Regions from separate parts of the Homo sapiens genome. Here region 2 is linked to region 1. Evidence: fine-mapped expression QTL. A gene starts in region 1. The other region holds a variant in brackets. All regions are shown on one strand. Distances are from middle to middle.

Evidence for each region.
Region 2: its variant is fine-mapped to the expression of BAALC-AS2 in monocytes (Quach 2016, PIP 0.95). The same link has a PIP of 0.9 or more in monocytes after Pam3CSK4.

The regions. Positions count from the first base shown.
Region 1 is chr8:103,133,940-103,150,225 of GRCh38, reverse strand. BAALC-AS2 (BAALC antisense RNA 2) reads left to right here and starts at 8,884. Exons shown (of 2, transcript NR_027071.1): 1 at 8,884-8,972. BAALC (BAALC binder of MAP3K1 and KLF4) reads right to left here and starts at 9,501. Exons shown (of 3, transcript NM_024812.3): 1 at 9,169-9,501. The coding sequence starts at 9,328. It overlaps LINC01181 (long intergenic non-protein coding RNA 1181), which reads right to left. Exons shown (of 6, transcript NR_145429.1): 3 at 14,935-15,829; 4 at 13,688-13,873; 5 at 10,858-11,020; 6 at 9,871-10,353. RefSeq lists a silencer at 9,276-9,465.
Region 2 is chr8:103,073,908-103,090,193 of GRCh38, reverse strand. It overlaps the pseudogene MTND1P5, the pseudogene MTND2P10 and the pseudogene MTCO1P4. Among named protein-coding and RNA genes, the nearest start is that of LINC01181, 39 kb to the left of the region's middle. RefSeq lists an enhancer at 11,488-11,657. The variant C/T (reference allele first, on the strand shown) is at 9,253.

The sequences.
Region 1 (16,286 bases):
GTAATTGAATCATGGGGGTGAGTCTTTCCCATGCTGTTCTCATAATAGTGAATAAGTCTCATGAGATCCGATGGTTTTATAAAGGGGAGTTTCCCTGCACAAGCTCTCTTCTCTTGTCTGCTGCCATGTGAGATGTGCCTTTCACCTTCCATCATAATTGTGAGGCCTCCCCAGCCACATGGAACTGTGAGTCCATTAAACCTCTTCTTCCTTATAAATTACCCAGTCTCAGGTGTGTCTTCGTCGGCAGCATGAAAACAGACTAATACAACCCATAAAGAGACTAAATCCCAGAAAACAGCTAGGAAAAATATAGAACAGCATACTCAGCCTGAGCCTGTTGTGGGGGCTTGAGGGGGAGGTAAGAGGGAAACATGGAGGAATCACCTACAGTAATTACCTGGTATGTAATTTGCCTGAATTCAAGTATATTTGCCCAGTATTGAAAGAAAAAAAGAAAAATCCCTTTACTTCTCCATGACCTTTCCCCCTTTCTCTTCCTCCATTCAAACTAGACTTGGGCTCCCACTACCTCCATATAGTTTCCTAAATACAAAAATGAACAAATATAATTTTTCTTGGTTTTTGAGCTTCCAAGCAGTTTGAGGAATTTTTCCCATCCCCCCATCCGGAACTTTAAACATCACCTTCACGTATAAGATGCAAATACAGCATCGTCTTCATGGGACCTGAAAGATGAAACCTAAATGCTGAGAGAGGCATTATTTTCCTCTGTGTGCTTTTTCTATGCTTTTTAAATGTTTAATTAGGAGCATGCACTGCATTTGAAACCAGAAAAAAATATATGATTCTGCCTAAAGACTGTTCCTGTTTAATGGGCCTGTCAGGTGACTGGGATGCAGGTGACACCTGGGGCACCTCCTGCAACCCTTTCTATGGAGATGGAGATTGGAGCAGCACGGGCACTCAGCACAGGGAGAGGGCAGTGTAAGCACCGCAGAGCTGCAGGACTCAGCCTTGTAAATGCTAGCAGGAGGCTCCCACGCTAAATGGTTAATATTTTCAGAAAAGCCCAAGGCAGATGGGGTGGGGGGAGGGTACTACATTCGTGCTTAGCAGCACAGCACAATGGACCCTGCCCTGAATTCAGAAACAAGAGACCTGAATTCTGATCCTAGCTCTCCCACTTCCAAGCTGGTGGCCTGGCTCAGTCTCTTCATCTCACTGAATCCCAGCTCCTCATCTGGCAAGTGATGAGAACAATGGTTTATGAGGTTATTTCGGAGGGTGATATAAACTAGTGTCAAAAAGAAAAATTCTCACATATAGTAAATGCAAATAGTAGATACAAATAAATGCTATTTGAATCTAAACAGCCAGGAAATAGATCCAATCTCAGAAAAAAGTGTGAGGAAGTAACAGTGGAAATCCGTCTCTCTTATTATTTCCAAATGTTCACAGTGTTAGTGCTCATAAACACACTTGCATTAGTTTGCTAGGGCTGCCATAACAAAGTGCCACAAACCGCATGGCTTAAACAACGGAAACCTGCTGTTTCCCAGTTCTGGAGGCCAGAAGTCCAGGACCAAGATATCAGCAGGCCGGTTACAAAAAACAAACAAACAAAAAAAGGCAGAAAGAATGAATGAGACCTACTATTTGACAGCACAATAAGGTGACTATAGTCAATAATAACTTAATCATACATTTTGAAATAACAAAGTATAACTAGATTGTTTGCAACTCAAAAGATAAATGCTTGAGGTGATGGATACCCCATTCTCCATGATGTGCTTATTTCACATTGCATGCCTGTATCAAAACATCTCATGTGCTCCATGCATACATACACCTACTATGTACCCACAGAAATCAAAAATGAAAAAAGATATCAGCAGGGTTGGTTCCTTCTGGAGGCCCTGAGGGAGAATCTGTCCCCTGCCTCTCTCTGAGCTTCCAGTGGTTTTCAGTGGACTTTCCTTGATGCTCCTTGGCTGGTGGCAGCATCACCGGTCTCTGCCTTCATCTCCACATGGAGTTCTCCCTGTGTGTCTCTCTATCTCCAAATTTCCCCTTTTCATAAGGACACCAGTCATTCTGGATTAGGGCCCACCCTAATGAACTCATTTCAACTTGATTACCTCTTTAAAGATTCTCTTTCCAAATAAGGTCACATTCTGAGGTACCGGGGTAGAGAGGGGGTTAGGGCTTCAACATGTGAATTGGGGGAGACACAAATCAGCACATAACAACATTCTAAAAGAACAACATTCTCAAGAGAGATGGCTGTGGTTGGGCATGAGACAGAGTGGGAGTCAGGCATGTGAGGAAGCAAGCGTTCCTGGTAGCCAAGCTAGCAGGAGCTATATCATGATTGGGCTCAGGGTAAACCCCTCGAGTCTGCTCTGCAGAGGAGAGTAAATGTGGCATATAGACTGGCCAGAGAGGCTCTGAAGGAGTCTTTATAGGGATAGGATTTTGCAGCGGAGGCCAAAGGTCTGCTGAGAGTGTCTCGAGGCTGTAGGCCTGACATGGGAGGGCTCCTGGGATGAATGGCACAGCACCATTGTCCGAGAACAGGTTTAGACACCCAACTTCACAAGGGCAGAATGGCCTTATCAGCAGGAAGATGCTATGGATCACAGGTGCACAGATCCCAGGGTGAAGGTTGGACCTCCAGGAGTCCAAACCTGAGGGATTGCTGAGTGCAGAATGAGCCAGGAAAAGACCCCTTTCTGACTCAGAGAAGACTAGGTTCTTCCCACCAGGGCCTATTAACCGAAGAAAAAAAAATCTGCAATGTTTTTTGCAGAAAAAAAAATCTGCATTTATCCTTTGAGTTACATACAATCCAATTACACTCTTTAAATTATTTAAAAATATACAGTTGAGTTATTATTGACTATCGTCATCCCATTGTGCTATCAAATAGTAGGTCTTATTCATTCTTTCTACATATTCTGGAGGAAATTCTGGAATGCACTTAGGATACTACTACACCCTGCAGTGGAGTCACCTTAAATTCATCTTTGGCTAGGGTTGGAATTGTTTTATCTAATGTCCAATGAAGACAAGGTTCAATGGACTGATATCTAAGACAAAAGCATCTAAGATGAGACTCAGGAAAGAGGTTATAAGAATGACAGACTAAGCTTCATTTGCACAGCTAGATCATTCATTCATTTATTCATTTTCACAGTCATTCAACAAATGTGTGGAAGATGCCAGGCATGCAAATATCAATCATGTGATCCCCAACCTGGAAGAGCTCACAGACTAACTAGAGAGACAGAGGAATGACCAAGCCCTGGCAATGCAGTGTGACAGGTACCATCACTAGACTCTCAAAGTGTCTGGAGAGCCAATGGCACAACATGATACTCTGCCCAGGAGACAAGGGCCATGGGAACATGAGGCTGCCTAAACCTTTACAAACTGCCTAGGTTTGTTACCACTTGTCTCTTGCAGTGATTTTAAGAAACAGCTTATAACAAAAAGGCTTGTGTTTGGCAAAAGGGGTGTAAGGAAGGTGGGGATGTTTTCTTACTGTGCAGCCCATCAGACAGACAACAAAAAGTTGAGCAGAGAGAACTGATGAGGAAAGAGAACATCATCTCTGGGGTCTACAAGAAGAAATTGACAAACAGAAGTTTTAGATTTATTCATTTATGAGAAGTTACTCAGGGTCCTGATGTAGCCAGAACAGCGTTAGGTACAGGGATAGGACTGTGTGTGAAATGAAACCTTATCTAACCCAACAGAACCCTTGCCTTACCAAACCTAACAGTCATCCTTGACGGAAGCAGACATTAATCACTAGTTATTCAAAGATAGAACCACAAGCGGTAACAGGTAAGTCAAGGCAGCTGGGGTGTGGGTGGAGGGGGTTTATCCACCAGGAAGCCCTGGCTGTCCTCTCCACAGGTGCTCTCACTCTCGGGGATGGAGTCAGGCCAGCTGGGCTGCACTCCTGTTCCTCTCCAGGGTGGGAGGGTTGGCTCGGACAGTCCCCCTTCCTCTGCTGGGCTCCTGCAGGGGTCTGTATACACACTGACCCCTCCCCAGGCAGAAAAAAACTGCTTAGTTCCTGAATGCCTCTAATGCTTTTCTACATGCCCTTCTAGTATGGACCATGGACAATGCTGACCTGAACGGTGTCCACTTTTATGTTTTTCTTCCCTATAATAGTAACTTCTTCAGGTCATCTTTGTGCCAAATGTCTATTCAGTGAACAAAAGAGCAAAAAAAGATGTCTTTTATCTTATTCTGTCAACACAGAGAAACAAAGACCTAGAATATTGTTTTCATAGCTCTATCAAAATGAATCAAGGTCAGCAAATTTAAACGTTAAACTGAAACCAATAAGATGAAATTTAACAGAAATAAATGCAAAAATTCCTTATTTGGGTTACTGAAGTCAATTATACCAATTCAGGATTCATAAGGAAAGAAATTCATTCATTCAACAAACGTTTATTGAGCGCCACCTACGTTCTAGTCACTGTACCAGGTGCTGGGTACATAGCAGAGAAAATACAATGTCCTTGATGTCATAAAACTTAAATTTGATTATAAAGAAAGATCTAAGGATTTTAACTAATCATAAGCTTAATGTGAGTCTTCAAGGTAATATGGCAACAACAACAGCAGGAAAACAAACAAATCCTAACCTGATTTTACATGCACCAAGAGAGGTTTGTTCAATGACCATATCATAGCACACCTTGTATTGCCCTATGCCGTTCAGCTGACATCAGTAGCTTGGAGTTAGCCATAGGTCCCTTGTATCAAGAGGGACTTTGACAAACCGAGTAGTGTATTTAGAGAATGTGGTCAGGCCTACCTGAGGTGTGAGAAGTGATTGAAGGAACTGCATGTATTTGACCTGGAAGACCAATGGTAAGAGATGTGACAGCCATCTTCAAATATTGAAAGAGTTGTCTGTGCAAGACTTGATCACATGGGTCTGGAGTTCACCGGGTAGAAATTACAAGGAAGCAGGAAGAGTCTCACAGGAGAACTGCTTCATAAAGTTATGGGAAAGCCTCCTTCCTTAGGGAAAAGATATTCCATCCTTAGAGATGATGCAGAAGACAATTGTGCTGTCTGAGATCAGAGTAGAATCAAGAGATCAGACTTGACTTTGAGTTTAGTGAACTGTAAAATCAAGAATTTCATAGCATATCCCCTATTAATCAGGAAGGCAGTATTTAGGAGTAGAGGCTTTGGAAATGGATAGAACTAGATTCCAGGCTGGAACTGGGAAAAGTTACTTGCAGACTTCCAGCCTCATTTCCTCACTTGTAAAAGGAGGGTGGCTATAGTTCCTGCCTCGTTCCTGAAGTGAGGATTCAATGAGAAAATTCAAAGTGCCCAATAAAGCACCAGGCCCCAGTAAGTCATTAATAAATGATGGGTAATGGTGATATTAAATGCTGTCCATTTTATTTGACTATCTTTCAGTTTATTTAGGTAAATCATTTTGCTGTCTGTAATTCTGCAAACCTCTATTATACTAAGACAATGATTTAGCAATTTAAAAATGTAAAGTACAAGTCCTTTAGAAAGTTTTGAAATGTTTTCTCTGGAGAAATTAGAAAAAAAGTGTGCTTAAGGATGCAATTTTTGGGGCTTGTGATTACACTGAGATGAAGCTAGGAAGTTATTAATGAATGGAATGACTGAGCTAGGTTGGGTCATGGCAACCTCAGAGACTTCCTTTCTCCTTGGAGACCCCCACCAGGCAACAGAATTAAAAATCAATCCAGCAGACTGATTTTATGAGGATTAAATTATGTCAGACCAATTTAATTTCCTTCTGTAACAGAGGGACAGACTTTGGTGACACAGGAAAGCAATGGATATCACATACCTTGGCTTCAGCTAGCTTTTAAATTCTAGCCTACGTAACAGTCAAATCTAAAAAATTAATTCAATTCCATTGAGTAGTGGAGATGATCTCCAAAAACAGGAACCACAGGCTCAGGATCATTTTTTGAGTAAGAAGATGCAAGAAACCTTCTTCTTTGTGGAACTGGGAGAAAAACATGCCCCCTCCCTGCAGTGAAATTCAGAATTCATTCAACAAATATTTGCTGAACACCTGTCATGTGACACACCCTCAATCTGGATTGGGCTAAGAGAAACACAAGTGAGATTTAAAAGCAGATATGATTAAATGGGACTTTTCTTGGGCAGACATGTTTGTGGAGTTGAGGTTGTGGGTTCAGGGAGGCTACAGAAGAAATGGAATCGTTGGGTTGGGCCAGGTGTTTGAATGGAGTAGGGTAAAGTTGGGGAGAACTTTTTAAAGAGAAGTTGTGCGATCAGAAAGGCCGTTGGAAGAATTCAGGCTAAATTGATTCAAGTGGGAAAACCTCAGTAGCAAGTACTGCAAAGAAGAGGCAGAAGGGGCTCTAGGAAGAGCTGACAGGACGGAGGACAGGTTCAGACAGAGCATCCATTCATTCTGAAAACTTTTACAAGTCCCAGATGTGTTCAGCACAGAAGATGCAAAGATGAATTAGCTTCTCCCCTAGCCCTCAAAAGTCCTGAAGTAGCCAGGAGAAAAGGTGGCTTCAGTTTGACACCAAAGGAGAATCACTAAGGTCCCAGAAAGAAGGGATTCTTGGGAGCTGAGGGTAAAGTCTGTGAGTGGTTGAAGGAGTGTTCAGATGGGGATGATTCCCCTGAGAGTCTCATTTGACTCACGTGGCTGACTTCCAGAGACCTTCTCCAGCTCTAGAATTCTAGTAGTGAAGCCATTTTTGTTGATTTCACAGTCTGGACTCTCCTGAATCTACTGGCTCTTTCATTTACTCCTACCCACCTCTCCCATCAGAAAACAACTTCTGTAAACAGGAAAAAGTGGCATTCTGGCCTCCTATCACAACGCAGCCACTGGGGGCTGTTAGGTGTCCCCCAGCAGCTTGGGAGTAAAATCATGAGTAAAGCACTGGCAGGGGGTGGGTGAGGTGGAAGTGAGGGGGCAGAGAAGATGAAAGGAATACAGAATCCTGGCCAGTCTCCCAGGGTGGCTGAAACCCAGGAGATCTGTAGCTTTCACGGATGACCCATTCTGACTAAAGATGACCAGCTCCCAGTCTGAAAAACCCACAGAAGTCAAGCCATTCCCAAAGGCCCTAGGGAATGCCAGTACACCCCCAAAGAAGGCCTTGATTTAATCTTGGTCTTCAGAAATATCCCTCTCCCCTGAGGCTAACAGAAATTCCCAGGGAATTAAAATGACCCTGCCCATACAAGCGTCTTGCCAATTTCAGGGTGCTGTCCTGGGGCTGAAGTGGAGCTTCTCCTCTGGAGGATGCAGGCCTTCAGGACCACCTCTCTGGCAGGGCTGGCCCATGTTTGGCAGGGTACCATGAATGAGTGTGTCTGTCCCAGGCCCCACCTGTTGCAGTGACCAGATCTCATGATGGATGGGATATGAATTAGTATGGCAGAGTAATAAATCAAGGAGTGTCAGGAAAGTTGTGAGGAACATGTATGTACATATAGAGCCATCCCATAATAACTCTTTCATACCCATACATATGCATATACGCACATACACACACACACCATATACTCCCAGTCACCACGGCAACCATTTCTTAAAGCTGTACTTACGGGGTTTTGGTTGTTTTTTATTATTATTTTTTTCATGCTAGATCTTTTCACCCTTATTTCTTCGGAGTACATCTCTGGCCTTTGACTCTCTGCTGAGAAGTACCATACCTCCTTGGGAAACCCTGTCACATCTAACATTTACCAGGTCCCTCTAAAAGGCTCATATCTATCCTCATGCTGACACTGAATTCAGCCAACACACCATTTGGTGACTTGCTAAAAGCATTGGCAATACAAAATAACCATTCTGATTGCCACTGTGAGTCAGAAAAACTGGAGACAAATATAGTGTAATGTATTGTACAGCTTTCACAGACAGTCCTCAATTTTAAAATAAAACCAAGTCACAAAGTTAATGTGGAAAAGGAGCCAGCTTTGGTCCTTAAAAATGGAGAAACCTATTCTTGATTAAAGTGACAGCTCTATTTAGTAGGCATGGATTTAAGATTCTTAACCTTGTAAAAGTAATTCGCATTTCCTTCCTCTTCCATATGTTATACATTATGCTTCAAATTAACCCTATTTTCCATTTTAGATTTCATTATTCAAAAATGCCAATAATATCAGTGGGTGAAGAAACACTTAAAACATTTTTATCCAAATATTGACCTTGCTTTGGACAACATCCATGTAATAAGTAGTGAGATTTTTTCCTTTTAATGTCACCAATATGTTTATGATTAAAGGTCAGTCTGTGGCAACAGTTTGCATCTCTGCGCTATAATTACTTGTTCTGCTAAAAAATAAAAAAATAAAATAAAATAAAATCCTGACTTATGACCTGACCAGACAATTCTTTGCATCTCCTTTTATCAGATTTCTGCTGGATGAGGAATGACCTAGGCAAGAGTATTTAATTTATAGTCAAAATCCACATGTGTGCCCTGCCTCCTGCAAAGCATTGGGACACCATAGGGTAGGGAGAGAAGTCCTTTGCTATGGAACAACTGCTCCAAAAGTAACCTAAAGTGCAGAACTAGCGATGGGGCGGGGTGCATTTATTTTGACCTAAACTGGGATTCTGGTCTTTGAAGCCCGCGAGTGGGCTCATTTCCTAGAGGGAGAAAAGGGGAAGCGACAAGAAAGACTCCACCCAGGCGATCCCAGGCAGGCGCCTTGTGTATAAATCCAGGGAGAGAGGGGCACCAGGTGGCCAATGGATGAGAAGTCACCCGGCTGGGTACGCAGGTGGCCAGGGGATGGCAGATGGGCCAAAGCGGGGCGGAGGCGGCCCTGGGCGGATCAGGGGGTGGGTGGCTGAGGGATATGTGTGCGGAGGAGGTGGGCTGTCCTCCCACCCACCGGTCTCCCGACCAGCGAGCAAGCTTTGGACAAGGCCAAAGAGCATTGGGCTGCTGGAAGCTGGGGCATCGGCGCAGCCTTCGGTAAGGGGCTCTGGTCGACCCCACTCCCTGGGCTTGCATCTGTCCACTGATCAGTGGGCAGGTCCTGCCTCTGCTTCCTCCCAGCCACCCCCGCCGCGCCATCAATTCCTCAGGGAACCGGCTCCTCTCTCAGTGCCCGGGCCAAGGCGCCCGGGGTAGCGGGCGGGCGAGGGTCTGCAGGGGCCCGGCCACTTACCCGAGTGCAGGCCGCCCGCTTCGGGGCCGCTGTCCGGGGCGGCGGCGCTGGGCGGCGCGTCCGAGTCGGTGTAGGTGAGCCAGGTGGATTCTGTCTCCCGGGTCCAGCTCTCGTAGTAGCGGGGCTCGATGGCATCCGCCCGGCTCCCGCCGCAGCCCATCCTCCTGCGCCGCGGGAGCGCCCAGCGGCTGCTCGGCTGTCGGCTCTGGCGGCGGCTCAGCCCCGGAGGCGCAGCCCCGGCCCGCAAGGAGGCGGCGGCGGCGACATCGCGTCCCCGCTCCCGCCCGCGCTGCAGCCGCGCGGAGCTCCTGCGGTGCCCGCCGCCCCTAGTCCGGGCCCTCTCCCAGCCCGTCCCTCCTCTCCGCCTCCAAGGCCCTCCCTCCCCTCCGGTCCCCACCGCCCAGTCCTCCCTCCCAGCGCCCTGGCCGCCCCAAGGCCCCCGCTCGCCCGCCCCCTCCCTCAGGGCTCCGTGACGGCCCGGGAGCAGGAGCAGCGGCCCCGCAGCCGGAGGAGGGCTGGGGCTCCCGAGGCGCTCGGACCCGTCTGGCCGGCATTACCGTTCCCAGTCTCTGGCCCATCTATCCATCCATCCATCCATCCATCCATCCATCCGCTCACCCGCTCATTCATTCATCCATCCATCCATCCTTCCTTCCTTCTTTCCATCCATCCTGGAAAGAACTGAAACTCTTATCACGGGACCCCAGGCTTTCTGGCCACCTGTTACAAAAGCAATGGAACTGGGAGCAACCCCGCAAAACTGGTCAGGGAGTATTGCCACTAAGACTTAAGGAACAGTCAGAGCCTATGCCTGTCGTATCTGATTTGGGGAGGCAGGAGTAGGGCTATGATTTTTAAGAGAGTTAGGCTAGGCAGTGTCACTTACACCCCTTCCAGCTGTGGTACTTCATGATCCTCTGAACTTTAAACTCGAGAAAGCAATAGATCACCTGGAACCACGCAGCATCCTGAACCCCCTCTCTGGGCAAGGCTTGGAGGCATGGCCGGTCCCTTCAAGCCCAGGGTGGCCTTGACATTCCCGGGATCCAGTTGTCAGCCTTTCTTTTCTCGGTGCACCCTCAGGTCCATGCGGGTTCAGACCTAGAGCTCAGACTTGCGTAGGCCAATGAATTTACCTGTTCCAAGAATCCAGAACAGGTGGTGAAAGATGAAAATCTTCTTAGCCTTCAAGAGGGGGGTAGGAAAGGGAAGGGTTTGGAAGAATAACTCTTCAATGACCAAGCTCTGCTAGAATATGGTATTAAGTATCATATTCATTCATTCATTCATTCAATGTATATTTACTAAATTCCTATTGTGGCAAAAGACTGTTCTAGTAGACATAATACATATATAATATATTTTGTATATTATCCATTGTATGTAGACTATAGGGTGTGATGTTTAATATAGCATGTAAAGCATAGAGAATATAGTACTCATTATATCCTATATAATTTATAGAATGTACGAGAGTACATTGTCTATAACATTTAGCACGTAGCATCCAATAGGTAGGGCAAGTTCAGAGCATTGCCTGGCACAGAGTAGGCCCTCAGTAAATGTCCAGTGAATTAATAATGAAGTATCTTTTTATAGTAATTTGATTCACTTAAATTATTGTAATTTGGGCTAAAGATGATCCAGTTGAGGGTAGAGCTGTCAGACATTCCTCTGGCAGGCACTCACCAGAATCCATAATGTGGAAGGGAGCAAAGATTCATGGAACTGTGGCCAGGGTCTCCTCCTCCTCATGCTGAGCGCAGCACCCGTTCGCACCCCAGGACTCAGGCTGGCCTCCTCTGCAGGCTTTGCTTCTCCTTTTGAGATGGCCTTGACAGGACTCTTCAACCTTGTTTTAGGTGTAAGGTGGAGGGAGTGCAGTTATCCGGGAAGTGGTGGCTTCCCTAGTCCTTTGGAATTCAGATGCCCTGTGCCTCTTTTCCTTCCCCCCTGAATATTTTGATTTCAGAAGAACCAGCTTTCAGGGAGAGAGAATACTTAACATCTCTAGCAGAGCCTGTGCTTTCCTCAGTTCTACGGCACAGTGCTCCTTTCATAACCAGCCACTTCGTGATGTCACCACCCAAAGAGCAGACAGACCAGAAAGAGTGTCTGAGTTAGACCGTCCTGGGGGAGTTCTAGAAAACGAAAGAAACTGAAAGAGCTAGAGCTTGGTGAGCACAGGAAACAGAGTAAACGTGAGGTGAAGTGGAGGGGTATCCTGGGGCCAAATAGAAACCCACATGCCCATATGTCTAAATTGTAAAAGCTATAAACCAAGTGAGCAAGTTTAATTGAAACATGGGCTGTCCTCATACCTTGACAAGTTATCTTCATAAAAACTTAAAAGGCCAGGTTCTAATGTAGAGTTCTCTCAGTCTTTGGAGTTCTGCACTGAACATGGCAGTGGGATTGTGGGTGGAATTGACCCACCCACTCCTCTTTCTATCCTCAGTTCAGTCCTGCTACACACGGGTCCTTGTGGGCCCATGGGTCTAAGGTCTGTCCATACTCCCCTCCCACAAATAGCTGCCCTTGGCCATCCCTCTGGCTGAGGAGCATGTGCCTGGGGGATGTGGTCTGCCCTCATGGGGTTTGCTTCCAGTACAAGCCCTGGAAGTAGGCTCAGTGGGTTTGGAGAAGAGAGTTGCAAGGTCTCAACTACCCAACAGGGAGGTTAGAAGGGGCTGAGACTCAGGCTCCAGGTACGTGCATTCTGTGATCCCTGGATTCCTTGGCCATAGAGAGGACCAGGGCTGGAGAACCAGAGTGGGACCTCTGGGGCAGGAGCCCAGAGCAGGGACCCCTCTTGCCAGGCCCTGTCTACTTACTTGAATGGAATTATGAACATTTCCAGAATACAGGAGATGGTTATCAAGTACTGCCTGGCTAAGGTTGAGTGTGGTCACTCATTTCACACACATTTCTGATCATCTATTGTGTATAGTTTAAGCTTCTTAAAGACAAAGATATGGTGACATGCTTGGAATCTTCAAAAGGGATTAACTTAATGCCTTCATAGAGTCAGTGCTCATCAAATGTTTGCCTAATGAATGAATAGCAAAAGACAAGGTGGGGATACAGTTAACAGTGCAATTTCAAGAGCCTGACTCTCTGAGTTTAAAGTTTGGCTCTGCTACTTAAGTGGATGGTCTTGGGCAAGCTACTTAACCTCTTTATGCCTCAACTGCATCGTCTGTAAATTGGAATAATAAATTGTGTCAGTATGTGTAAAGGGCCTCAAAGAGTGCCTGGCACATAGAAACACTCCATGAATGTTGCTATCACAACACTTTTGGGGCAACAAGCAACAATGTCATCTCTCTTCCTTAAGAGGGAAATCCCTGAAATTATTATGTCTTTTCACATGAGATAATGTTTGTGAATTTGCTTAGCACACTGCAGAAGTTTGGTAAATAGGTAGGTTTTTTTCTTTTCTTTCCTTTCTTTTTCCTTCCGTTATGATGTTACTGCTAACAACCTTCCTGCAAATAAATTTTTTTACCCCCATTTCTAAGTAATCATCATCGACAGAGCAGTTAGATTTTTTCATGGAATCTCTTTCTTGGCATTACGTAACACCATTGATTCAGAGAAATTCAGAAGCCAGAAAAAGTTAAAGAGCAGCCAATCCAGTCCTTTTATTTTACCAACTAGGAAATCGTAGCTCAGAAAGCTGTAAAATTGCCCAAGGTCACACAGGAAATGTTATCTCTGGCAGAGCTGAAGTTTCAGCCAGAGCTGGGGGCCTGTGGCTGCTGGCTCCGTGCTCTTTTAATTACAGCTCTTTAGTTGGGATTGAATTTTCTCCTAAACCTTCAGGAATAAATGTCATAAATTAAATGTAAATATGTAAAATGTAATACATTATCTTAAACCCTCTGTTCAGAATCTGTAGCTTGACTGGCATGAATTGGTTATCTTTTTCCATCAAGTTTGAAAGCAACAAAAAAAGAATTCTCCTAAGGAGAAATGCTGCAACAGGGCATTGGAAAGCCTGAGCCAAAGCCATCCAGAGCAATGAAATAAATTACACCTGTAAAAACTACTGCAGAGTGGTATTTGCTATATGATGGGATTCTCAAAATAAATTCTCTCTGGCTTTAAGAACCCCTGTGACTGGTACCACCTCTGGCTCATTTCTATGGAAACTGAAGCAAAGGCCTGTAGTGCTTCTCCCTCCAAGGTCTCATTTCTGTGGCTTGGCATCACTGGACTCTACCCGACTATTGTGAGCTGTAGAAAACAGACCTTCAGTAAGGCGGACAATCAGGACAGAACAGAAGGGTTAGCAGGAACCTAAACCTGCCTTTAGAATCAGCCATCTGAAAAGGAGTAAAGATAGATTCACTGCCTTACAAGTTTCCATCTCTTTCCAAGTGAAAAAGTAGCATAATTGAAGAACAACAGTAGCAATAATTCTGGCCAACAGGGTACAGATCCTAGGTAAATCTCTTTGGTCTTGAATGCCAAATCTCAGCAAGTTTCCCCACTGCTACAGATTCAGTGAACATACCAGAACCAGAGCTCCGTGCCCACCCTCTGAAGGATTTTAAAGCAGTTTCCACAGAGCACCCCTCCAGGTCCTCGATCTTGGCTAGTTGACACATCCTCATTGATCCACAAATTGTCATTTAGATGTAAAGGAAGAGGGCTCAAAGTTAGCACCCAAAAGCACAAGATCCAATTTCGTTCCCCACATCTGGAGAAAAAAATCAGAAAATATCATTTGACATGAGCTCATTCTTGCATCTGTTGCCTTGAAGAATGACTGCTTTCCCCAGGGCATGAATGGTACACCTGGAATCCAGGTGATGTGGACAGATCGGGTAAACATCATTACAGAGTATAAACAAGAAAGGAAAGCAAATATTACAACAGCAAGAAGATAAGTGAGTTTTTTATTTGGTTTAAGAGGTTAGAAAAGGTGAAAAAGGGAATGTTGCAGAAAAACAACAAAAGGAAGTAATTGAATATGTTACAACAAAACATTTATATAGAAAATGAAGTTTATATGTGGAATTAAACACTGTAGAATTAATTCACCACTAACCCTAAAATAAATTGTTCTCATGAGAAAAGAGGCTGGCTCCTTTAGGTTAATTCTAGAGAGATTCAGCAAGTTCTTTCACTGATTGCCAAACTTAAGAGTCTATCTCAGTCCCTGGATTAATGTCCTGTGGCACTTTATCATACCCCAAATTAAAACACAGGACAAAGCAAATTTTTTCGGGTGTTTCCCAGTTTCTGGTTTTACTACACTTCCTTATGGTGTAGTACTAGCTCATTGATCAGATGTAATGAATAACTGATTTGTTCTCTCACATGAGAATATGACCAACATTCTACTGGAAATGGCCTGGAGAGGAAAACCCGGTGATGATGAGGTCATGGACCTAATTTTTAAATGACAGAATAACTTCAAATTGTAGATTGTAATGCAAGAAAAGGGGGACTGAATAAGAGGTGAGAATAGATCCCAAAAGGCATATTCCCACAGGACTAATTCCAAAGAGAATTCTGAAAACCCAGGGAAGGTTTCAATAAAAACATCCACATAGCATTACACCTTCTTAAAGGCCTTTGGAACCATCGTTATCAACCTCTAATGTTGCTCAGGCCTCTTAGTAATACTGTCCTGTGCACTTTATTTTCACCAGAACAAAGAAAGCTTGAGTAATTTGCCAAAGATTACTATACATGTCAGAAAGAGAAAGACTGGGGTGTAGACCTCTTAGTCCAGAAACATAGAATTTTACTTCCCTTCAGAAAAAAAGGAAAAGCAGATTGTAGCTTCTTTCTGAACTTGAAGAGAGAGCATTTTCTGTAGATTTGAATAGTGCATTTTTACAGTGTTTACTAAGACCTATGGTTCCAATTCCATGCACCAGTTCTGATTGTACCTTCACCTTTAACTCATGAAGATTTTGACAATGTGTGTCTTAGTCCATTCCTGCTACTGTAACAGCATACCTTAGACTAGGTAATTTATAAACAACAGAAATTCATTTCTCACAGTCCTGGAGGCTGGGAAGTCCAAGATCAAGGTGCCAGCAGACTTGGTGTCTGGTGAGGGCTGCTCTTTGCTTCCAAGATGGCACCTTCTTTCTGCATCTTCAAATGGTGGGAAGACAAAAGGGATGAACACTGTGTCCTCACAAGGCAGAAGAGATGGAAGGGCTAGGTAGCTCCCTTCAATCTCTTTTATAAGAGCTCTAATCCCACTCACGAGGGCTCCACCTTCACTTTCCAAAAGGCCGCAGCTGTTGATACTATCACATTGAGGATTAAGTTTTAAACTTGAATTTTGAGAAAACACACACATTCAGACCACAGCTGTACATGAATCTGAAGAGCAGTGTGAGAATCAGCAATCACCTGTAAAAATACAATCCGATGAAAAGAGAGGAACTGAAATAGATAGAATAGATTTTGGCTGATGCTTTTGGCAGAAAATTGCTGGTGCTGGTGTACGATGCCAGGAGCCTTGGAGTGCAGGGCTTGGGTTTCTAAGGCAGAGCTGGAGGAGTGGAACAAAATGTTCTCTTTAACCACTGACCATGGCATACAGCATGGAGGAGAACTGTTTTTGGGCTCTTGAAGGTTCTCAGAGATTTTCATATAGCACAAAGCAGTCCAGATGACTGAGATTCTTTCTCTGAGAGAAAAGAAAACACATTCAGAACATTTGTTTGCTCTTTGCTTAATTCTACCACAGTTAACCTGGATCTTCAATCATTAAAGAGACATGATATGTCTTATTCCTTTCCCTTGGCAAAGAGTTGCTTGTCTACCCAGGCAGAGCAGAAAAAAAAGTCTTTTTCATATTATTCTACTGCTTCTTAGGATGGGGCAGGTCATTCGTTGTACTTGCGTGTAAAGTTAGGTCGCACCACAGCAAGGCTCAGGGGAGCAGATGGTGACTTTTATTCATCATTTCCCAAGATGAGGGAAAGGGACTACAATAGTTTACTCTCTCAATGCTATCTTGGTTGTTGCTATTACGACAGATGCTTCCATCAGAGGAGATACAGATATAGAAGAGAGAGGCTGAGACACCAGGAAATCAGGCTGCCTCTCCATCCTGCCCCCATTGCATTAATGTGGAAATGAGA
Region 2 (16,286 bases), 60 kb after region 1:
TGCACGGGGTTGCCAGTTGGCTGAACCCTAACTCCTATGGGAATAGCAGTGATTATAGTGGCCGGTGTAAAATATGCTTGAATGTCAATGTCTATCCCTATTGTAAATATACGATGAGCCCATATGATAAAGCCTAGAAAACCAATTAATATCACGGCTCACACCATTCCTATATAACCAAATGGTTCTTTTTCCCCAGGATTATAGGTTATAATATGTGAGATTATTTCAAAGCCAGGGAAGATAAGAATATACACTTCCAGGTGGCAAAAAAATAAGAATAAATGTTGATATAAAATTAGATCTCTTGCAGCTAGATTTTTTTAAAAAGTGATATTAGGGTTTCAGTCTTTTAAGAATATGGCTGTTAGAACAGAGTGGGAGAGAAGAGATAATACAGCTGTGATTAGCATTTATCAGACAAATAGTGGTGCCTGAGATTGGGACACGGCTGGTGGTTTAATGTTAATAATTGTAATAAATTAATAGCTTCTAAGGTTGATGAGACACCTACTAGGTGTAATGAGAAAATGGCAAAATCTACAGAGGCTCCTGCGTGCTCAAGATTTCTGCCTAAAGGTGGCTTATCCTGTGCCAGTGCTGGTTTCCACTGTTGAGGAAGCAGGAGTAGAAATGATGGTGGGAGAAGTCAGAATCATATGTTATTTATTCAGGGAGATGCTACATCAGGGTCTCTGATTAATAAGGGGACTAATCAGTTGCCAAGTCCTCTCACTAAAATAGGCATAACTATTAAAACGATTATTATGGACACAAGAACTGATTAAAGTGTAATCATGGAAGTGTAGAAGTTCTTCTATCATAGGTGATATTACATATTGAAAGCCTAATTGGAATAGGTATGCCATAAAGATATAGTGCTGATGACATTATAAATTTGATTGTCACTTGGCCAGGTGCGGTGGCTCACACCTATAATCCCAGCACTTTGTGAGGCCAAGGCGGGTGGATCATCTGAGGTCAGGAGTTCAAGACCAGCCTACCCAACACGGCAAAACCCTGTCTCAACTAAAACTACAAAAATTAGCCAGATGTGGTGGTGGCGCACACCTGTAGTCCCACCTACTCAGAAGGCTGAGGCAGGAGAATCGCTTGAGCCCAGGGGGCGGAGGTTGCAGTGAGCTGAGATTGCACTACTGCACTCCAGCCTGGGCAACAGAGCGAGGCTCTGTCTATAAATAAATAAATAAATAAATAAATAAATAAATAAATAAATAAATTTGATTGTCACTGAATAGGACTCCTGGTTGACCTAACTCTGCTCAGATTACAAGATTTAGGGCAGTCCCTACTATTCTGGCTCAAACACCACGTAGAAAATTATAGTGTCACTATCCTGTGTTGTTTGTTGAGACTGATGAAGGGTTAACGAGCACAGGTAGAGGATAAAGTAGCTGAATAAGCATTGGATTGTAAATTTAAAGACAGAGGTTGAACCCTCTTTCGACCCTGTCTTGAGGTGAATGTTCACACTGAATTGCCAATTCAAAGGAGCAGCTTCAATTCTGCCCGGGCTTCTTCTGCCTTTTTTCTCTCGACAGCGGGAGAAGTAGATGGAAGCTAACTGATTAGAATGCTTTAGCTGTTAACTAAGTTTTTGTGACGTTGGAGCTCACCAATCTAGTACGGATTTCACTTAATTAAAGTTTTTTTTTTTCATTCAATTGATGTAAGAGTCTTGGAATCCTTATGTTTCAAGAATTAAGTATAGGGTACTTGCTTAGAGCTTTGAAGTCTCTTAGTCTATCTAACCTAAATCGCTAGTTTGATGTTGGAAATATTGGTGAAAGTGGGAGGAAAAGAGCTGATAGTAAAACAAGTGATGGGAGAAAGAATATTTGTTTTATACATATATATTTTAATTTTTTTATTGAGACAGGGTCTCCCTCTGTCACCCAGGCTGGAGTGCAGTGGCATGATCACAGCTCACTGCAGCCTTGATCTCCCAGGATCAAGTGATCCTCCCGCCTCAGTCTCCTTGTAGCTGGGATTACAGGTGCATGCCACCATGCCCAGCTACTTTTTTTTTTTTAATTTTTAGTAGAGATGAAGTCTCACTATGTTACCCAAGCCATTTTATATTTTTCAATTGTCATTTTGTTTTTGTTATTGGTTGTTGAAAATATAGTTAATAATAAAGAATAGTCATACATAAAAATATAAGTTGAGAAATACTATAATAGTTACGAATGGGGGGCAAGAAAAAAAGAAAATAATTATGAATGTTGGCATAATAACATTTTTGAATGTTAATTTACTTGGGTAGAAATCCTGTAAGTAGGGGTAGGCCTCCTAAGAATAATAGTTATAAGGATTATAGAAGTTATTATTGGTAGTTCATTTCATGTGTGCAATAGTGATAGTGTTGTGGTATTTATGTTTTAACTAAATATTATGAATATGGTAATCATTGGAATGATATAACTTAGAAGGTTTATGATTATTGTGGGGGATTATAAATAAGGATAGTTATTATTCAGCCTATATGTGCAACTGGTGAATAAATAGGCTAAGAGTTTTCATGGTTGCGTTTGATTAAATTCTCCTCATCGTCTTATTAGAATAGATAATATGGCAATTATTTGTATTATATTTAGATTAATTGATGGATTAATCGATGATATGATACTGAAAATATAATTGAACTTGGTCCCAGTTTTTGTCATGTTAATAGGATTATGCTCGATATTAGTGAAATTCTTTGTGTTACTTCTGGGACTCAGAAATGGAATGGGGAGAGTCCAAGTTTTATCATTAGTGCTATCTATGGTAACTACCGGGGATGCTGTTTGTTTGGGAATTTTTATGACTGTTAATTGCCCAGAATACAATATGTTAATGATGCTGTCTATCATTAGGGGTATAAATATGGTTGCTTGTGTTAAGAAATATTTGGTAGCTGCTTCTGTGGATCATGGATTTGCTTTTTTCATTAAAATGGGAATCATGGCTAATACATTTATTTCTAATCCCATTTAGATTATTAGTCAATGTGAGCTAAATATTGTGATTGTTTTCCTATGAAGACAGTAAATAGAATGGTAGAAAAAATAGGGGATTAATTAGTATGGAAAGAATATAAACCAATGTTTTTGGGGATATGGGCCTGGTAGCTTATTTAGCTGACCTTACTATAGAATATGGTATATTAGGCAGCACAGAGATTTTTGAATGTTTTTTGTTTTTTTTGAGATGGAGTCTCTCTCTGTCTCCCAGGCTGGAGTGCAGTGGCCAGATCTCGGCCTACTGCAACCTTTGCCTCCCAGGTTCAAGCGATTCTCCTATCTTAGCCTCCAGAGTAGCTGGGATTATAGGCATGTGCCACCACACCCAGCTAATTTTTGTATTGTTGGTAGAGACGGGGTTTCACCATGTTGGCCAGGCTGGTCTCGAACTCCTGACTTCAGGTGATCCACCCGCCTTGGCCTCCCAAAGTGCTGAGATTGCAGGTGGGAGCCACCATGCCCAGCTGATTTTTGAATTCTTTAGAGTAGGTTCAATTCGTAACATTCTGGAAATAAGAGGACTTAAATCTCTATCATTTACTCTCTTTAACTATTTTATCAGACAAATTTCTTATGTGTGTGGTGGAATATGCAGTAGTAAAATAGGTACTGAGATGTGTCATATGCATAAGGCTAATTTGAGTGGTTAGAAATTTTTTCATAGAAGGTACATGAGTTCATCATACTGGAATCATGGGTATAATGCTCAAAGTCAAGAACTGTAAGATAGGAAAATGGTGTTCATGATGAAGTTGAGTATATAAATTTCTGGTATGTGAATATCATGGAGTTCTTCTAGGCAATGGATAATGGTTAGGGCATTTATTATAATGATGTTGGTGTACTCTGCTATATAAAAAAAATAGGACAAATTGGCCTGCAGCATATTGGATGTTAAAGCCTGACACAAGTTTCAACACCTTGTGTCAAGTTGAATGAGGCTCCATTAGTTTTTGCTACTGTTGAAGTAAATCATATTATGGCTAAGGATCATGATGAAAAAAATAGTCGTACATATTCTCAGGTATCAATTAAAGTTGTTAATGTAAATGATTTGCTTATTGAGAGAACTAATAATGGTGGCTGGGATAACTTCATATAAATTTGTTTGTGCTACTGCTCATAGTGCACCAATTAACACACATTTTAAAACTGATGTTCATCCTGATTGAAGGATGGAATATATGGGTAGGCTTCATGTGGTTAAAATGAATAGTGTTCCTATATTCATGTTAATTAGTGGGTACAGTAAGATTAGTAGAATTCACATAGTAAGTGCAAGGGCCAGGGCCAGTGTGGGTGCAATGGCATATGATAGTATAGAAGATGTTGGTGGTCGTAATGGTTCTTTAGTGAATAGTTTTATGGCATTAGTGAAGAAGTGAAGTGGGCCATAGGGGCCTACAGTATTAGGTCCTTTATGAAACTGTATATAATCTAATACTTTTTATTCAGCTGTTAGCAATGCTATTGCAAGGAGAGGGGGGCTAATAGGTAGAAGATTAACTATAAACATGCTGTTAAGAAGGAGTTGAGCTGATTGTAAAGTTTTAAGTTTTATGCAATAACTGGGCTCTGCCATCTTAATAAGCCCTTGTTCTTGGCAGGACATTTAATAGTATATTAGGTTGAGATTATATATAACCTATTAAAATTGAGGAAGTTTTTTGAAATGGGCTCTATTTCTCTTATTCTTTTGTACTAAGAGAAATACTGAATAGGTAGAAATAGATCTGGATTGCTCCGGTCTGAACTCAGACCACATAGGACTTTAATTATTGAACAAACGAACCATTCATTAATAGTAGTTACACCTTTGGAATGTCCTGATCCAACATTGAGGTTGCAAACCCTGTTGTTGATAACAAACTCTAAAATAGGGTTGTGTTGTTATCCCTAGGGTAATTTGTTCCATTGATTAAATTGCTTAGGTTAATAAGCGATTATGTTACTTTGACTGGTCTAGTCTAGATTTTAATCATTTGGATGTTGTGTTGTACTCTGAAGTCACCTCAACCAAAATTTTTAGTCTGGTAGATTAGGTGTTATTCCTTTGAATAGTTAGGTTAAAGTTGTGTTATGTAGACTAATTCATTTACGTTCCATAGGGTCTTCTTGTTTTATTTTAATATCCCTGCCTTTCCGCAGGGGCAGGAAGGTCAATTTCACTAATTGGAAGTAAGAGAAACTTGAACCCTCTTGTGGTCATTCATACAAGTCCCTATTTAGGGAACAAATGATTATGCTACCTTTGCACTGGTCACAATACTGCAGCTGTTAAACATGTGTCACAAGGCAGGTGACATACTAGTCTGATACTAGTTATATGAGAGGTAATGTTTTTGGTAAATAGGCAGGGTTTGTATTTGCTGAGCTCCTTTTAGTTTCTTTAATCTTTCCTTAAGTAGTGCAGTAGTGGATGCCTGTGTAGGATTAACAATTGGTCTTTTTTGTTTTTTAGAGAAAAGGTCCCACTCTGTCACCCAGAATGGAGTGCAAGTGGCATGATCATGGCTCACTGCAACCTCCAACTCTGGGCCCAAGGGATCCTCCTACCTCAGTTTCCCAAGTAGTGAAGACTACAGGCACATGCCACCACACCTGGCTATTTGGCTTATTTTTTGTAAAGATGGGGTCTGGAACTCCTGGCCTCAAACAATCCTCCCACCTTGGACTCCTAAAACATTGGAATTATAGGTGTGAGCCACTGAACCCTGCAATATTTGTTTGGATAAACAGTCAATTGATCGGTTTAATTTATTGAGTTGGTAACTATCAGCTAACATTAGGAATGCTATTGTATCCAATATAAGCTTATGCAACGATACATTTTTTCTTGTTACTTATATAAACAGAATCACCTCTATTTATACATAGGTTAGTCCAGTAAAATATTAGGAGTTTATATAAATAGTTGGAATTAAGATATTGATTGTTGAGCTTGAACCCTTTCTTAATTGGTGGCTGCTTTTAGGCCAATTATGAGAATTTAATAGTTTACATTCTATAAAAGGTTGTTTCCTGTTTCTAAAGTGTTGTCCCTCTTTAGATTAACGTTTAAATTTACATTAAGGTTAAATATTTCTTTAGGTAAATTTAAGGTTGAATTGAAATTCAGCGCTCACCCAGCTCGACTGGCATTTTACCTCTACTCAAGGATATTCTCACAATTTCACCACATGAACAAGTTTGTTCTTGTAACTGTCCATGAGTAGCTCATCTGGTTTTGGGGTTTTTAGCTAAAGTTTTCTTTGTAAAATTGTTCTAGTTAATTCATTATGCAAAAGGCATAAGGGGTAAGCTTTGTTTTTTTTTTTTTTTTCAGTTTATTCTTTCATCTTTCCCTTACAGTACTTTTTCTATAGCATCTAAATAAATTTCTATCATCTCCTATCCTCCCTGTTGTAAATAATGTTTTGGTTAAAATGTGTATGTAGTTGTTAAATTTTGTTAGTTTTAGTTCAAAGTGGTCAGATTAATATGAAATCTTCCAGGCATAAGCCAGGTGCCTTGAGTTAAACTACACTTTGGTTTGTCCAAGCACACCTTCCAGTATTCTTTGTTCTGACATCTCCTCTTATAGATGGGTCTGTGTTAATTATAAACTTGAGTTTATTGAAGCATTTGAGGAAGGTAATGGGCGGTCTATGTGTGCTTCACAACCTTATTCAATTAAGCTCTCTATTCTTAATTTACTACTAAATCCTCCTTTGGCCTGTAGTTTCATAAGGCTTATCATGGGTTGGGTGTACTTTAATCAGACAATGTAAGTCATTTCTTTCCATCTCATAAGCTACATGTTGACCTAATGTTTCCATGTAAGTACTTGTGCTTACTTTATGACCTTTTTAGGGCTTGCTGAAGATGGTAGTATACAGGCTGAATTGACAAGAAATAGTGAGGTTTATCATTGCTTATTAATTATGAACCAGGCTCCTCTAGGGGGGATGGAAACACCATACCACCAAGTCCTTTGAGTTTTAAGCTGTTGCTGATAGTACTCTAGTGAATAACTTTAAGTTTATGGCTAAACATAGTGGGGTATTTAATCCCAGTTTAGGTCTTAGCTATTGTGTATTCAGATCATATTAAAGTCATTTTTGTAGTTTATTTGTATTATCCTAAACACAAACGTGCTTTTCAGATTTTATTAATTTGGGTTTATGACTGTGGTGGCTGACACAAAATTTACTGACCCTAAGGAAAATTAGCATAGTTTAGTCAAACTTTTTGTTTATTGCTTTTTATTATTGCTATTTCCTGTAGGAGTGTGGCTGAGCAAGACGTTAGTTGCTACCAATTAGTGTGCTTGACGCCTGCTCCTTTTGCTCTTTTGCTGATTACACATGCAATGCAGATACTTGCACATGTAATCTTACTAAGAATTAATAGAAGGGCCAGAACCAAACCTGTGTGTTTATGCAGTTACATGAACTCATCTAGGCATTTTCAGTGCCTTACTTTAGTGGACTGAGCTACATCGACTTATATCTAGAAAATTCTGTCCTGGGGAAAAAAACTGCTAAATTATGTGCTATGTTAGCATTGGGGGCTCTTTTGGTAATCTTAGTAAGAAAAAAACTTTTAGCCTAGAAAGCCTAATTTTTAATTGATGTTTGGATTTTTGAAAAATGCTTTAATTAGGAGTTGGGTTAATGCTAGATGAACTTATAACTAAATTTAATAGCATGTGAGTATATATAGGAGCCTTAGTTAGCAGTCAATAGATACAAGGTTTCTTATTTGGGCAGGGTTGGCAAGAATAAAAGACTTACTCAGATACTATAAGAGCTTAAGGAGGGTAGAGGGGTTTACAAAGTTAATCATACATGGCAGGAAGAACTGCTTGTATGTGTCTGTGTCTATATCTTGTTTTTATTACGTCCATTGAGATGAATCAATTAGCACCAAATGATTTTATGTGAGTAAAGAATATTCCATTTAAGCGCAGCTACGATCTAGCTGACTGTGTCAAGGCATTGACAGCCATGTTGGATCACAGCACCCTCCAAAATTAAAAAATACCAAATGCATGACCCCACAGTTCCATGTCATCTTGTGCTAGTTAGTCATTAGTCACTGAGATGTCTTATTTAGGGGGAACAAATGAGTGGTTTCAAATCTATGGCCCTGAAGTAAGAACCAGATGCTAGGTATAGTTTCAAGTCTAGAAGCCCCTAGGTTTTATGGGCCCAAAGCAAGAAGGACATTTCCTGAGTAGGTTGCTGGTTTCTCAAAGCTTGGTGGTAAAGAAATCCTATTGGAAGTGATAAGCATGTTGTTAAGGATTGATGTGACTTGATGTGACTTAATGTGCCATGCACAATCAATGATATTATGTCCTATGTAAAAGAAAGGAATTAATGTACTGGACAATATCCAAGTGTTGAATCTATTTTATGTAATCTTGCAATATAACATGCTGTGCACTCTAATTAGTGCAATTTATGTGCGCATATGCATGGGGAATGGACCTTAATGCACAATAAAACATTTATGTAAAATCAAGCATACATAGCACTAGTACATTATTAATGGGGCAAGGCACGTAATGCAGGTGGAGGGCCTCTTTGGAGGTTAAAAAGAATAAAGAATGTGGAGGAAAATGAAAAGATAGATAGTTCCTCAAATGAGAGGGACATAGGGGTCAGAGAAAAGGGCTGTCTTTTTTTTTTTTTTTGAGACAGGGTCTGGTTCTGTCACCCAGGCTGGAGTGCAGTGATGTGATCCTGGCTCACTGCAGCCTCAACCTCCTGGGCTCAAACCATCCTCCTGTCTCAGCCTCTTGAGTAGCTGAGACTACAGGTGTGCACCACTACGCCTGGCTAATTTTTTTTTTTAATAGAGATGGGGTCTCACTATGTTACTCAGACTGGTCTTGAACTCCTGGGCTCAAGCAATCCTCCCACCTCAGCCTCCCAAAGTGCTAAGATTATAGATGTGAGCCACTGTGCCTGTGAGAGGTGTTTTCTTAATGAAAGAAACAGAACTGTTTATATAATGCAAATAAAAAGGAGAGAATTAAACAGAAAATAGCAGAAAATCATAGGAGCAAACAAAGCGCCAAAGGCCTGTGTGCAGAGGGACGGGTGCTGGGCTGAAGATCAGAGCAGAGTGTGGCATGCAGAAGGGGCAGGGCATGCTGGCTGGAAGAGTACACACCCTCCCAGCACGAGGAGGACCCAGCATGGGGAAGTCTGGGGCATTTAGCACGTGGCACAGTGCC[C/T]AGCACCCAGCACCCAGTGGGCTCCCATGACTACCAAGACCAACTGCTTCAAATTAAATCCCAGTCTTACCATACAGTAGCTGTGTGACCTTAGCAAGGTAAACAACCTCTCCTATCTGGGAAGAGGCCAGATCTTAAGCAAAGCACAAAAGAGCTGGAGTTTTGGAAAGGGACCCTGTGAAAAGGGGAGAAGATTTGGAACAATTCTTGTGAAGAATGGGAGACAGATGACCAGAGACCAGTAAAAAGAATGCACACAAAATGTGGTAAACAGGCATCAGAATGGTATAAATGTAAAAATAATGCCATGGTTAGGAATTGAGATTTCAGTCCCTTTTTTTTTAAATTTGGGTTTAATTTCTGTATATATCAAACAACAAATAACCCAAAGGCCAGGATCGGGGCCTGTTGTAACTGAGAAAGCAAGAGCTGCCTGAGATGTTCATTTTATGCATCAAGTTGACAGGGCCTCAAGGTGCCCAGATGGTCAGTCAAACATTATTCTGGGTGTTTTTGTGAGGGTGTGTTAGTCCGTTTTCAGGCTGCTGATAAAGACATACCCAAGACTAAGCAATTTACAAAAGAAAGAGATTTAATGAACTCACAGTTCCATGTGGCTGGAGAGGCCTCACAATCATGGTGGAGGGTGAAAGGTACATCTCATATGGCAGCAGACAAGAAGAATGAGAGCCAAGTGAAAGGGGTTTCCCCTTATAAAGCCATCAGACCTTGTGAGACTTATTCACTACCATGAGAACAGTATGGTGGAAACCACCTCCATGATTCAATTATCTCCCACTGAGTCCCTCCCACAGCACGAAGGAATTATGGAAGCTACAATTCAAGATGAGATTTGGGTGGGGTCACAGCCCAGCCATATCAGTGTTTTACATGAAATTAACATTTAAATTAGTAGTTGTCTTGAGTAAAGCAGACATAATGTGGGTGGGCCTCACCCAATCAGTTGAAGGGCTGAATAGAATAAAAGACTGACCCTGGTAAGACTGAACTCTCCTGCCTGATGCCTTTGCACTGGGACATCAGCTCTTCTGGGTTCTACAGCAGCTTCCAGCTTTCAGACTCAAACCAGGACATCTACTCAGCAGATTTTGGAGTTGCCAGCCTCTGTAATCATGTGAGCCAGTTTCTTATAATAAACCTCTTCATATACTAGTTCTTGTCTTTGGAGAACTCAGAACTCTGAACTCTTGTCTTTAGAGAACTAACACACTGCCTGACTGCGTGATTTTATCATTTATTGCCCTCAACCTCAGAAAGAATTTGAAATAGCTGCTTAGCTACATAAAGTTTCAGGCCAGTGGGCTTTCTTTTAAACTACAATCTTTGCAGGAAAAAATGGCAGGTTCATTGGAAAGGAGTCCTGAAATGAAGCAAGGAAAAGGCAAGAAAGAATAGAAACAGAAGAATTCCCAAGGTTGAAGAGGAAACAAAATGTTAAAAGAAAGATTTTGACCAACCAAAATTAAGAAGCAAAGAACAGGGGGGAAACTAGGCAACAAAAAAGACAAAAGAAAAATAAGTAAATAAAATAAAAAATCAATGGATAAACAATGGCAGCCCGGGCAACATAGTCTCTACAAAAATTTTTTAAAATATCTGAGTGTGCCTGTGGTCCCACCTACTCAGGAGGCTGAGGCAGGAGGACCACTTGGGCCTGGGAGGTTGAGGCTGTAGTGAGCCCTGATGGTACCACTGCACTATAGCCTGGGCAACAGAGCGAGATCCGCTCTCAGAGAAAAAAAAAAAAAATGAGGCACCTAATAAATGTTACTATCTCCTTGCAGCTCTAATGTGGGATTTAATGAGTGTTCAAGGGCTGCTGAGCAGGGACAACATTGTGTACCACCATGTAGCTGAAGAGTTAACTTTCCTAGTTAGGAGGAAATGAAGCTGTGTGCCTGGTTGTAAAGATAAGAGCCATCCAAAACATTTATTTTAGAAAAGAAAGTGACACGAGGGCAAGCAGCCAATTAAAATCTGGAAAGCTGCGACTATGGAAAATTCTACATTTCCTTTCAACGTAAGCACCTAATGACACAGGACTTCATTCCAGAACTAACACTAACACTTCTCAAGCAATCAATTCATATATTCCCATGTTCACGTCTCTCCAAAGTTGCTGTATTTCCCCTGGAAAAACGGAAGAAATCCAATATAGCTACCCAAACAAATACCGTAAATGACTTAAGAGGCAGGGACAGAGAGAAGTTAGAGCGGCAATAATTTATATGATAGACTTAAACCCTTCTTCTACTGAGTGGGGCTCATAGCCTCTTGTCTCTCAGTAAAAGCCTATAATAGTTTGAAGCAAAAAGACAACCCTCCCCTCTAAGAAAAGTGGAAGTGAGAAATATGACATATTGGAAAAATGAAAAGGAAACCAGAATGCTCCCCACCTCGTGCAAAAAATCCCTGTTGTCACATGTTGGCTATTATCAAAAGACTACCGTGTGACTAATTTGGAGCTGTGGAGTCAGCCAGTTATGTGTCAAATATTATTTAAAATGCCCATTTGATAAACAGATGATGACTATGTTTGTGAAGAAATCAAGACAGTTGCAAAAGAATTTAAGAATAAATTTTACAAATTTCTATTACTAAATTCTGCCTGGATCTTCACAGGAAGATCCAGGCAAAGCATTCAGTGTGTTTGCAGAACACTCTTAAAGTTGGAGAAGCTGCAGAGAACTTTCGGGTGCAGAGTCTGGCACACTTCCGGGTTTAGTACATTCTCCATGCATTCATCCACTTCAGTTCTGAACCAGAACCCAGTGCCTGCTATGAATGCGCCAAGCACGACGTAAGAAATAGGGGCTACAAACACACAAGTATGACCACTGCTGCAGTGATCCTTGAAACATGCACATGAGTCCCTAAAATGGGTTCCCTTTGCTAGAAGAAAAAAGTCTGAGTTCTTCACCATGTTCTGAAGACCCCACCTAGGTGCATCTGCTGCACATACCACACCCTTCACTCACTCACTCAGCTATTGCCACGCTGATCCTCTATTACCCAACCTCTATGAGACACTTCCTTCCCCTAGGTCTTCACATGGCTGGCATCCTCTGGGGTATATCTAGACACCCCTCTGAAGCAGCTCTTCCTACCCATTCCCAGCCAGGTTAGTCCTCAATGGCCTTACAGGTGCAGAGGGCGAAAAGTCTTACCTTGTTCGCTATGTTTATTGTGTATCGTCCACCAGCAGGTAGGCTCCATGTGGACAGAGTCCTTTTTCTCATTTGGCTGCTCCTGCCCTAGTACCCAGGTATTCAACAATTACTAAGTATTCACTAAGTGAATGAGGATTCTGCCCTCAGTAAATGGTTGTTGAACAAATGAAGGAACTATGGGCACTTTTACCTAAGCAAGTTGTCAGTGACACATGTACTGAAACAACAGAAAGATATCATCAGACCAGCAAAGTTTCAGATGCTTTATCCCCAGCCAACCAGCTATCTTTTCTTCGGGGACTGCTGACATGAGTGACTGCTAATGTGATAACCAGTGAGATGAGCTACTCTGGGACAGATGTGCAACCTAACCCCCAAGTGGAGGAGGCGGCTGCAGACGGCTGCAGCTAAGGCCAACTGAGATGCTGAGTGGACAAACGAAAACAACAAAAAAGGCAAACAGACAGAATCGACAGCAAGAGCACTGGACGGAGTGAAACCCCAAAGGGCAAATCTCCTTACCATTCGTAAAAGGAAATTCAAATTAATTTTTAAAAATTCTATCGATATAAACAGATAAGCAAAGAATTAAGAGAATTTGTAGAAAATCTGAGCTAATTCCCGGTAGGTTTTTTAAATTGAGAAACAATTCATATACCACAAAATTCACCTTCTAAAGTATACAATTCGGTGATTTTTAATATATTCATAAAGTTGCGTGATCATCAGCACTATCTTAACTCCAGAACGTGATTGCCCCTAAAGAAACCCTGTACCCATTAGCAGCCACTACTAAATCCCTTCCCATCCTGGTTCCTGGCAACCACGAATCTTCTTTCTATACCGATTTATTTGACTATGCATGACATTTCCCATAAATGAAGTCATCTGTGACCTTTTGTGTCTGGCTTCTTGCACTTGGCACGATGTCTTCTAGGTTCATCCATGTTGTGGCGTGGGTCAGTACTTCCATTTCTTTTTATGGCTAATATTCCACTGTGTGGATAAACCGGATTTTGTTCATCCATTCATTCATCAGTTGATGCACACTTGGGTTGTTTCCAATTTTAGCTATTATGAATAATGCAGTTATCAACTTTCATGTACAGGTTTTTGTGTGAATATATGGTTTCAGTTTTCTTGGGTTTACACGTTGGTGTGAACTTGCTGGTCATGTGATGCCAGCAGGTTTTTAATGGGAAATCTGCCTTCTAAACAGATGCAGTTAAAGAGGAACTAATTTCATCTCACATAAGATATGAGGCAGTAGGCAAAAAAGAAACACAAATCATGCAGCATGGAAAAGGGTAGTACACAATAACAACAGCAGTTAATATGTTGAGCCCCTCCTCTGCACCATGTACCATGCTAGAAAATTTGGACCTGCGGTTTAATCCTCATTCTCACAATAGTCCTGTAGTGTTATCCTCATTATCCTTCTTCTACAGAGGAAGGAATGATTCAGACCCTGGGATGCTAGTCTGCCCACGATTTTACATCCTGAGAGAGCACAGATGTGAAGTTGGCTCATGTGGCCTGCTTGGAGGAGGTAGGAAAGGAGAGGAGACTGCTGGAGCATCCCTAGGAACCATCTATGGTCTAAATTCCTCCTCCAAAGCGGCCCCCATCAAATCAACAACAGTAAACGATATTCTTCTTTCAGAGAACACATAGAGAAGCCAATTCTAAAAGGGAAGAAAGTCCAGTTTGAATAGAGCCTCTATCCCGAGGGCAAGTGAGCAGCAATTCGGAATTTGTGAGAAGTGACTTGCCAGTCCTCTGGTCCCAGAACTGGGGTGAGCTGAAGGTGACCAGAGACTGGGGACAAGTGGCCAGTTAGGAGGCTGTCAGAACAGACTAGGAAAGAAATATGGCCAGTGGGGATGCCAAAGGAAGAGCCGGGAGTGGAGGATGGGGCGGGGGGGCCTCCAGAATGCTTCACAAGCCTGAATGCAGAGGGTGGCCAGCTAACGGTAGGAGGTAAAATCCATGCCACATGTCACCGATGGAAAACAAGTCTGACAGAGGGCTCTCCCCTTCCTATTTGCCTCTTTCCAAGGGCAACTGTGAGTTGCTAGACTTCTCAAATAAGGCCTTAATGGCTTCAATGTTTTATGAACCTCTTACATTTCTTAGAGTCAATAAAGACAAATAATATCATTCAAAAGCACGTGGTGAGCATCTCCCTGATGTCTCCCTGCAGAGGCTGGAATAGTGAATGCTCTGCACACAATGGATACTAAGTGAGCACTGATTGACAGAAGAAATTATATTCCCATTAGAACCACACAGCTGTGTTTTCAATTCTGCTGATTCAATATTTCCCATCAGAAACAGCTTCTGGTCTTTCAGTATGACAACCAGTTTACTCTCGTGCACATCAATGCACAAAGTATATGTAGTTGTCTTTTGTGATCAAAGAGAATGCTGTCCTGCGTAGCAATCTGAGGCACACCAACAATGATTCCAAGAGCAATCCTTTCCTCTCTTTTTCTCAGGCTTGTGGGGATGTTAAATCTAGCAATCAAAGTAAACAGAAGCAAGGCTGGCTCTTCCAGTCATAAAAAAACAAACAAAAAAAGCCAAAGGATATGGGATATATTGGAAACTCAAGGTCAAAAAGGCTCATTAGCCAGGTGTGACCAACTAGACCTCTATGTCCAGCGCAGTAGCCACCAGCCACATGTAGCTATTTAATTAGTTAAATAAGATTGGTCAGGTGCAGTGGCTTTCACCTGTAATCCCAGCACTTTGGGAGGCCAAGTCAGGCCAATTGCTTGAGCTCAGGAACTTGAGATCAGCCTAAACAACATGGTGAGCAGTCTCTACCGGGAAAAAAAAATAGCCGGATGTGGTGGCATGTGCCTGTGGTCCCAGTTACTTGGGAGGCTGAGAAGGGAGGATGGCTTGAGCCCAGAAGGCAGCCTGGGCGACAATGCCAGACCTTGTCTCAAAAAAAAATTAGATAAAAAAATTCAGTTCCTCAGTCACACTAGCCACATTTCAAGTGATCTTCAGTCACATGTGACTAGGGGCACCACATTGGGTAGCACAGGTATAGAATGTCCATCATCATAAGAAATTCTTTTGGACACTGCTAAGCCAGGCCGACTAGGTGGTCAAACGTGATAAAATGATGTGTCTATTCTTTACCCACTGACTGATAACATAGGTTGACTTTTCTGGACAGATACCCTTAAATCAGTTTGTTTTCAGACTGTGGGTTTCACAGATCAGTAAAATCCTTTTCCTAACTTAGGGCTGCCGGGTTTGTGTTTTGTCCAGTAAGATTGCCACCAGATCACCAGGCTGCACGCCCCATCAAGGTAGGTAGGCACTGTGCCCATCTGACTGCTTGCATTAAATCCCCAGCGCCTAACACGCCTGGTTCATAGCGCATGCTCAGCAACTGAGTCAGTGATTATATATGCACACGCACATGCACACACATACATATATCCTTACCTTTTTAATTTGATCTTCAGTGAAAACTGTCACTGGCTGGCACTGGTCTGCTCAAAGATGTGTGGGTTTTATGCACACACACACACAGAGGCTAGAGTGTCACAAAATAAGTCATCTAACATTTTTTGAGAACTTTATATTAATAAACGCTTGTAACAAAATATACCAAACCAGAATGCAGAGTGTAGGTTTCTCTAAACTGACTGTACAAGTCAGAACCAAAAATGCAGGGAGGAGAAACTACCTGTTTGCTTTTCAATGGCACCAGAGTGCCCTCTTGTGGTAAAACATGGTATCTGCATAATCACAATTTCTATTTAAAAAACAAGCGTCTTTATGCTTCTAACAATGCATAAAACCTGTACTCAACTATAAAGC